Linked DNA regions of Homo sapiens. The protein of the gene in region 1 binds, or shares a complex with, the protein of each later gene. Each region holds a gene or a part of one and is shown on either strand. Other genes may lie near its edges.

Region 1 (3,811 bases):
AGTTTGAAATACCATGGAAGTCATTAGGTGGGACTTAGGGAGGAACTGTGGAACTGGACAAAATTTTAGTAGACAGAAAGTTAAGGGCCTTCTTGGAGATAATGGGAGCAAGAGGCAGAGATGGGACACCCAAGACTGAGGACATGGTATAAAATGGGTAGTTGAAGCAAAAAGTGAGGAGAGAGGAAGTCAGAGTGGTAGGCTGGCCCTAGGCGTTGCATGGAGGAATTTGTAATTCATTTCATTCTGGGAGAGTGGTATTGGGATAATTTGGTGTGGGGAGAGGCAGGCGGCGAGGAGACCACTATTGCAGAAGCCAGAGAAAGGCCTGAATTAGGAGGGTGGAAGGGAGAGAAATTCTGGAGGACTTGTGGGATTTGGCAGTTGAATGCTAAGTATGAAAGAAGGAGGGAAAAAAAAAAGTTGAAGGCAGCTTTAAGATTTTATGCCTAGGCTAGGTGTGGTGGCTTACACCTGTAATCCCAGCACTTTGGGAGGCTGAGGCGGGTGGATCACCTGAGGTCAAGAGTTTGAGACCAGCCTGAACACTGCAGTGAGCCATGATCACCCTGCTGCACTCTAGCATGGGTGACAGAGTGAGACTCAATCTCAAAAAGCAAACAAAAACAAAAAACAAGCACAAGACCAGTGATAGAGTTTCCTGTGGAAGGGAGGAAGACACTTCTTTCTCAGATAAAACAGTGAAAAAGAGCAAGATGATTAAAAAAAAAAGTATAATCAAGTGGCCCAGCAGTTCCTAGGCAGCAATGACAACTGCAGTTCCTTGGTCACTAACACACTTCCATGGATTCAGCCAGTAAGGAGACAGTGAACCCAGATGGATTTGGACAGTTACTGCTTAATGCACAGCAGGCAGCATTAGCTTCATGTTCACATTGATTCTCCTTGTCCCCCAAGTTCAATGGGGTGATGTAGAGGTAGGCTGAGGTGCATACAATGCACTCAGTGGGTCTTTGTTATAGCTGAGGGGCAGTGAGCTTAGGAACCCTCCGGTATTATGAGGGAGCTGCTAGTGATCCTGCTCAATCTTTGTCCTGAAGGAATATGTTACCTTATATTGCTTAGGAAACAAATCTGCCCCCTGACCTGGAGGGATAAACTCTAGCTTCCAAGGCTGTCGGTTATGCAAAAGTCCTTGAACAAAGATATTAATGCCCTTTGCTCAGAAGGCATTCAGAAATGCCAGATTGTGGGCATCCGACCCGCAGACACTGACCTAGTGATGGATGAGAGACGTACACTGACACAGACATTTTGCTTGTCAGTGTGGCTAAAGGGGTTCTGCTCCTGAATCTGCAGTGTAGGCCATGATAAGCCGGTGAAGTTCACATTTATTTAGTACAGATTAAATGACAAGGGTCATGAGTAAACACCACTAGAAGGTAATTAACATTGCCACCCCTCCCCACCCCCCCCAGGGGAGAGCAGTCATGCACCCACAGATAATCAAAGGTTGCTCTTAGGACCACATGAGTAAACAAGCTATTTAGGTAAACTCTCCCACATTCCCTTGTTATTTGCTCTTTTGCTATCAACTCGAGGTAAAGAGGATTCGGCTGCTTTCAGCCAAATCTTTTACTGAAGCTATGCACCACCACCCCCCAGCCTTCTAAGAAGGTTTGTGACTATTTCCTATAACTATCTTTACAATTTTTCCTCTGCAGTTTTTCCCACCACCCTGACTGAACTCCCACACCAGATCCCTGGAGAATTATCTACCAACACAGACATTTATGTTTATATAAATTATATGTACATGTATATGTACGCATATTTATGAATAAAGAAATGTTTAGGTGTAGAAGAGAAGTCAAGGAAGATCACTTGGGATATATCCCTGCTCTCGTGTTCTGAAACACTGGATTGAGTCAATATGATGGGATCTGTGTCTTACCTGTCATTTTCCCTCAGAGACTAGTACAGTGCCTTGAGCTTAGTAGGTGTTCAGTGAATGCTTGTTCAATGATGAATGATTGAAGATCTTTAAAAGTTCTCCTCCTTCTTGAAGAGAGAATGTCAACTCCCTAGATGATTATTAGAAAGTTTATTCAGCCTAAATGGTTGTGTGTTGTCTGCAGTTCTATTTGTAATGTCTGTTTTACATATTGAAATGTACTATTTTAACATAGGCAGCCTACTTTAACAATAAAGTATTTTTTTTTAAAAGGGTAAGTAGTTAGGCCGGGTGCGGTGGCTCATGCCTGTAATCCCAGCACTTTGGGAGGCCAAGGCGGGTGGTTCACCCGAGGTCAGGAGTTTGAGACCAGCCTGGCTAACATGGAGAAACCCTGTCTCTACTAAAAATACAAAAATTAGCTGGGCATGGTGGCATATGACTGTAATCCCAGCTACTCGGGAGGCTGAGGCAGGAGAATTGCTTGAACCTGGCAGGCGGAGGTTGCAGTGAGCCGAGATCATGCCACTGCACTCCAGCCTGGGCGACAGAGTGAGATTGTGTCTCAAAAAAAAAAAGAATAAGTAACTAGATAGAAGAAGAAGGGTTTTGAGAAACATGATGGGTTTTGGAGGAATGTACAAAGTTAGATTTGGAAAATTCTTCTTATGAAATACACATATAAATTGTATCATTTTAATATGGTCTTCTTAACGGTTAACTGTCTATGTTTCCAGATGATGTCCTAAAATAGTCGTTCCTTGCAGCTGGTACTGAAGAGTGTATGAAAGAAAAACTCTGTAACAGATGTGTCTGGTCCTGTATGAATCAATATCTGTAGCAATGGCTTTTATATATGTGGAATCAGAAGGCTCAGGAAACAATTTTAATGTTCTGTTAGGTTCTTTAAAATGGGGATACATTCAGGTCTCAGTTGTTGAGGCTGTTGAGCAGCAATCCAGGTATGAAAATGGGAAAGATTTGACTGCTTCTCTCATGCAGGGGAATAAAGCAAAGGCACGTGCAGAGGGAAGTAGGGGTAGAGAGAGGCAAGTTAGCTTCAGAGAGATTTATTTGCACCCAGTTCTGTTCTACTCAGCCTGACGTTTTATCATCTTTTTGAAAAGTGGCATGAAGTGGTGTGGAACACATCAGAGGGTGAAGCCAAGCAAATCTGAAAGAGAGCAGAGGATTTCATATGATATCCTATGTGTGCTTTCCCCTTCCTTCTTAGGAGCTGGAAGAGGCAGAATTGATGTCCACTCAATTTCAGTTCATCTTGCCACCTTCATATTATACTGATACTAATATATGTGAAATAAGAAGAGAACATTCCAGGCAGTTACTATGTCACATGCAGTCATCAGTTTCTCTGCAACCCTACAACCACAGGGGATTCCATTGCTTGCTTTGACTTGGACTTCTCATAAAATGACTTTCGTTGGATTTAGTGTACAATTTTTAAGTTAATTACTGATTTTGTATATATGTGGTATTGTATCTTTGAAAGCTCATATGAGTTTATTAGGGATTTTCAGAATTATCAACTAAATCTGGCTAGAAAAAAAATTATCTGATGAAAAACCTTTCTGGTAACTTAATAAAAATGGGGTGATAGCAAGTGTAAATGCCAGTTAAATCCTGGGTGCTGGTGTGTGTGAATACATGAATACATGTGTATGGTTGAAGGAAATAATTTGTAAATCATAGCTTTCCTAGTATTACGTGTCCCTTCATAAAATAGCTCAGAGTTTTCTCATGAAAAATAAATTGACATTTGAGACAAAAGTTTGAACTTGCTGGTGTTCCATTCAAATTGAATAATGTACAGCTAATGATTATTTTTGGATGCCTTCCAGAGACAGATGGGACCGTGTTCAGAATTCACACAAAAGC
Region 2 (3,811 bases), on another chromosome or scaffold:
ACAAAGTGAGACCCTGTCTCAAAAAAAAAAAAAAAAGCATGCCGGGCGCGGTGGCTCACGCCTGTAATCCCAGCACTTTGGGAGGCCAAGGTGGGCAGATCACGAGGTCAGGAGATTGAGACCATCCTGGCTAACACGGTGAAACCCCATCTCTAGTAAAAATAAAAAAAATTAGCCGGGCGTGGTGGCGCACACCTGTAACCCCAGCTACTCGGGAGGCTGAGGCAGGAGAATGGCTTGAACCTGGGAGGCGGAGCTTACAGTGAGCCGAGATCACGCCACTGCACTCCAGCCTGGGCAACAGAGCCAGACTCTGTCTCAAAAAAACAAAACAAAAGGCAAATGTTTTCCTGCCTAGCCCTTAGATGGTCTGCCATCCCCAGCATGGTGTGGGCGTGAGCTCTGTCTGGCCTGCACCCCATTTGCCGACCATCTCCAGAGCTGGGCTGTGGCTCCCATCTGCGGCGTGGGCTGGGCAGGGTTGCAGTCCCCCGCCCCGTGTGACTCTCCCCAGCGTCTCCTGGGCTTGGTGCCTGCTGGGCTGCACTGTACACTTGCGTGCACGTAAACAAACGTTCTTTCTCCTACACACATCCGCTTGAAAAGCACCCTTTGTGAAGCATGTGTGCGGGTTTCAGATCGTTTTTCCTGGGTTTCCTGGAGGCCTTGGACCGTGTTCCTGCCCTGGCAGGTGCCTTTTCTCGGGGCCTCTGCTTGGTCAAGGAAGAGCTGGGACGTGTAGCCACCGCCTCTGGTTCCTTCCACGCCCACCCAGCTGAGCTGCTCTGCCCTGGGGCCGGCTGGTGGCCCAAGGAGGGCGCTGGGGTCTGGGCTGCGGTCCAGGCCCTTGGCGTGGGTGGGGGTGGCACCGGCGCTGCTGCCGTCCTGGGCTGTTCCACCATGCAGAGTGAGGCTCAGTGTCTCAGACCAGGTCCAATCCTGGCGAGACTGGCAGGACTGCGACCCCAGGAGCCACCTCCATAAATGTCATGGTGTTCCCCCATCCTCAGGGTCACACTGCACCCTGTGACCCATCAGCCCCTAGGTGCAGCCTCGGCCGCCCTCCCGCCCACCTGTTTTGCCCGGGCAGTGTGTGCCATGCCACTCTCCTGGGCAGCTGCTTGCAGGCTGAGCCTCACTCTACCCAGCTCCAGACCTGTTCGCTGATGCCCCTGCACTGCCCAGCTCGGGCACAACGCCTTCTCAACCAGGCCTGCCTTCCCACACCTTTGCCCCTGCGGCTGAGAGCCTCATGGAAAAACCCTCCAGAAATTGGTGTCTATTTTTGGGAATTAACAAAAACAGTGGCAAGCAGTCAGTGTTTTCAGTTTATTAGGACTGTCCCCAGACCTACAGAAAAGAGAAGCTGCTGATTACTAGTTAGGACCAGACTTGGCATCGGCAACGATGTTGCAGGCCCTGGCGTGGGCCCTCTGGGCCTGAGCCCTCCTCGCAGCCCTGCGGGACCCCTCTGTCCCCCTTGAACACCACGTTCACCCAGCGTGGGTTCCTCTCCTCCCTGCCCTTCTGCCCCCGTCAGACCACGGGACAGTCTCAGCCACGTCAGAGCCAGCATGGGCTCCCCACCACGCAGGCCTCCCTGCTTCTCCGGGCTTCTGCTTCTGTTACTATGACGAGCTCCACACTGCCCTCCCCCAGGAGGTCCCATCCTGCAGCCTGGTCTGCCCAGCTGGCTCCGGGGCGAGCGTGAGGGCCAGGCAGCTCAGCCCTCTAACACGTCTCTTCTCTTTTGACCTCCTCAGCCAAAACAGAGTGGAGTACGAGAAAAGGGTCCGAGCACAAGCCAAGAAGTTTGCGCCCTCATAAGCAGCGACCTTGTGGCATCGTCAAAAGGAAGGGATTGGTTTGGCAAGAACTTGTTTACAACATTTTTGCAAATCTAAAGTTGCTCCATACAATGACTAGTCACCTGGGGGGGTTGGGCGGGCGCCATCTTCCATTGCCGCCGCGGGTGTGCGGTCTCGATTCGCTGAATTGCCCGTTTCCATACAGGGTCTCTTCCTTCGGTCTTTTGTATTTTTGATTGTTATGTAAAACTCGCTTTTATTTTAATATTGATGTCAGTATTTCAACTGCTGTAAAATTATAAACTTTTATACTTGGGTAAGTCCCCCAGGGGCGAGTTCCTCGCTCTGGGATGCAGGCATGCTTCTCACCGTGCAGAGCTGCACTTGGCCTCAGCTGGCTGTATGGAAATGCACCCTCCCTCCTGCCGCTCCTCTCTAGAACCTTCTAGAACCTGGGCTGTGCTGCTTTTGAGCCTCAGACCCCAGGTCAGCATCTCGGTTCTGCGCCACTTCCTTTGTGTTTATATGGCGTTTTGTCTGTGTTGCTGTTTAGAGTAAATAAACTGTTTATATAAAGGTTTTGGTTGCATTATTATCATTGAAAGTGAGAGGAGGCGGCCTCCCAGTGCCCGGCCCTCCCCACCCACCTGCAGCCCCACCGCGGGCCAGGACCAGGCTCTCCATCTGCTTCGGATGCACGCAGGCTGTGAGGCTCTGTCTTGCCCTGGATCTTTGTAAACAGGGCTGTGTACAAAGTGCTGCTGAGGTTTCTGTGCTCCCCGCATCTGCGGGCTGTAGAGCGCTGGGCAGCTAAGATCTGCATAGGTCGGGATTGGCATCGAGACCCTGGCAACTGCACCGGTGCCAGCTGTCTTGGGGGCCACAAGGCCAGGTCCAGACCAGGGCTGGGGGCTGCCTGAGGACTCCTATCCGGGCAGCCTGCTGGCGGGGGTTCCCCTCTTCAGTGGCCAGGTCACAGGGATGGAGCTGCGCTGTGCATAGGGTGCCACCTCAGGTGTCTGTCCCTTGTGTCCTCAGGAGGCAGCCTTGCTACCACCCGTGGCAAACGCCAGGTGCTTTTTCTGGGAGAGCCCACAGCCGTGGCCCTCCAGGGCTTCCCCGACCCTTAGCGCCAGGTAGAGGGCCCTGGGCAGCCTGTGTCTGGAATTCTTCGTCCTGAGGCCACCTGAGTGTGGTCTGTCCTGGGGAGGCTGTGCGCCTCAGCAGCCGTCCTGACGCTGAGCCCTCTGCAAAGGTTGGGCCGGCCAGGCCTCTTGGGGCTGCCTGAGCCACTGCAGGAAGTGGCCTGGCTGGGAAGTTGGGTGCCGGTCACCTCCCAGCAGGAAGGCACAGTGGACAGAGATGGGAAGCCCTGGGGGACACAGCCCGGTGCTCCCAGCCCTCCAACCTCTGGCTCCCAACCCAGTCTCCCCATCCTAGCGAGCTTGGCCCTCCTCAGTTTCGTTTCAAGCCTTGGGGCTGGAGCTGGCCCTGCTGCCCTGGCACCCCCCGGTGGCTGGAGCTGGGTCCCCGTGGCCCAAGTGCAGGGTCCCAAGAGGGCAGGGCGGGGCTCCCCAAAGGAGCAAAGAATGCAGGGAGGGCGGTCCAGGGCCCTGGGAAGGGGAGCTCGGCACCCTCCAGGTCCGTGTGGGACTCCAGCCGCTGTTGGCTGGGAATCGAAGTTAGAGGTGACTTCCAAAGGCCCCCCGAGCCGGCAGTGCCCCCCACCACCCCTCCAGCGACTCTGCGGTGCCAGTGCCTTGTTGGCTTTTCCGGCTACGCACCCTGCAGTCACTGAGCTCTCGGTCTGACGTCTGATGTTTGTGGTTTGTTTATAACACGGGGCCTTACCTGGGGAATTCAGCTGGTTTGAATATTTGTAGCCCGCTCCCAGAATGTCTTATTTTGTAATGACTGAACTACATTTAGTAATAGTTACACATGTATATGGTTAATACATATGGAAATTCAATATATTTTGTAGTTAACGTATTCTGAAGTAA

Evidence for each region.
Region 2: the proteins of RWDD3 (region 1) and UBE2I are in contact, whole or in part, in a crystal structure (PDB 4Y1L), measured with the Homo sapiens proteins. Residues at the interface, in NP_056300.3 of Homo sapiens: Glu3, Pro4, Glu7, Ser10, Val11, Ala13, Ala14, Ile15, Cys17, Pro98, His101, Glu102, Leu105; in NP_003336.1 of Homo sapiens: Leu6, Ser7, Ala10, Gln11, Arg13, Lys14, Arg17, Lys30, Gly34, Thr35, Met36, Leu38.

Annotation. Positions count from the first base shown.
Region 1 is NC_000001.11:95,240,437-95,244,247, forward strand, and holds part of RWDD3 (RWD domain-containing protein 3), read left to right. Parts: intron 1-3,774; coding exon 3,775-3,811. Other genes in the region: TLCD4-RWDD3 (TMEM56-RWDD3 protein), read left to right, coding at 3,775-3,811. UniProt on the Homo sapiens protein: Enhancer of SUMO conjugation.
Region 2 is NC_000016.10:1,322,967-1,326,777, forward strand, and holds part of UBE2I (SUMO-conjugating enzyme UBC9), read left to right. Parts: exon of another isoform or gene 1-1,763; coding exon 1,764-1,827; 3' UTR 1,828-3,811. UniProt on the Homo sapiens protein: Accepts the ubiquitin-like proteins SUMO1, SUMO2, SUMO3, SUMO4 and SUMO1P1/SUMO5 from the UBLE1A-UBLE1B E1 complex and catalyzes their covalent attachment to other proteins with the help of an E3 ligase such as RANBP2, CBX4 and ZNF451.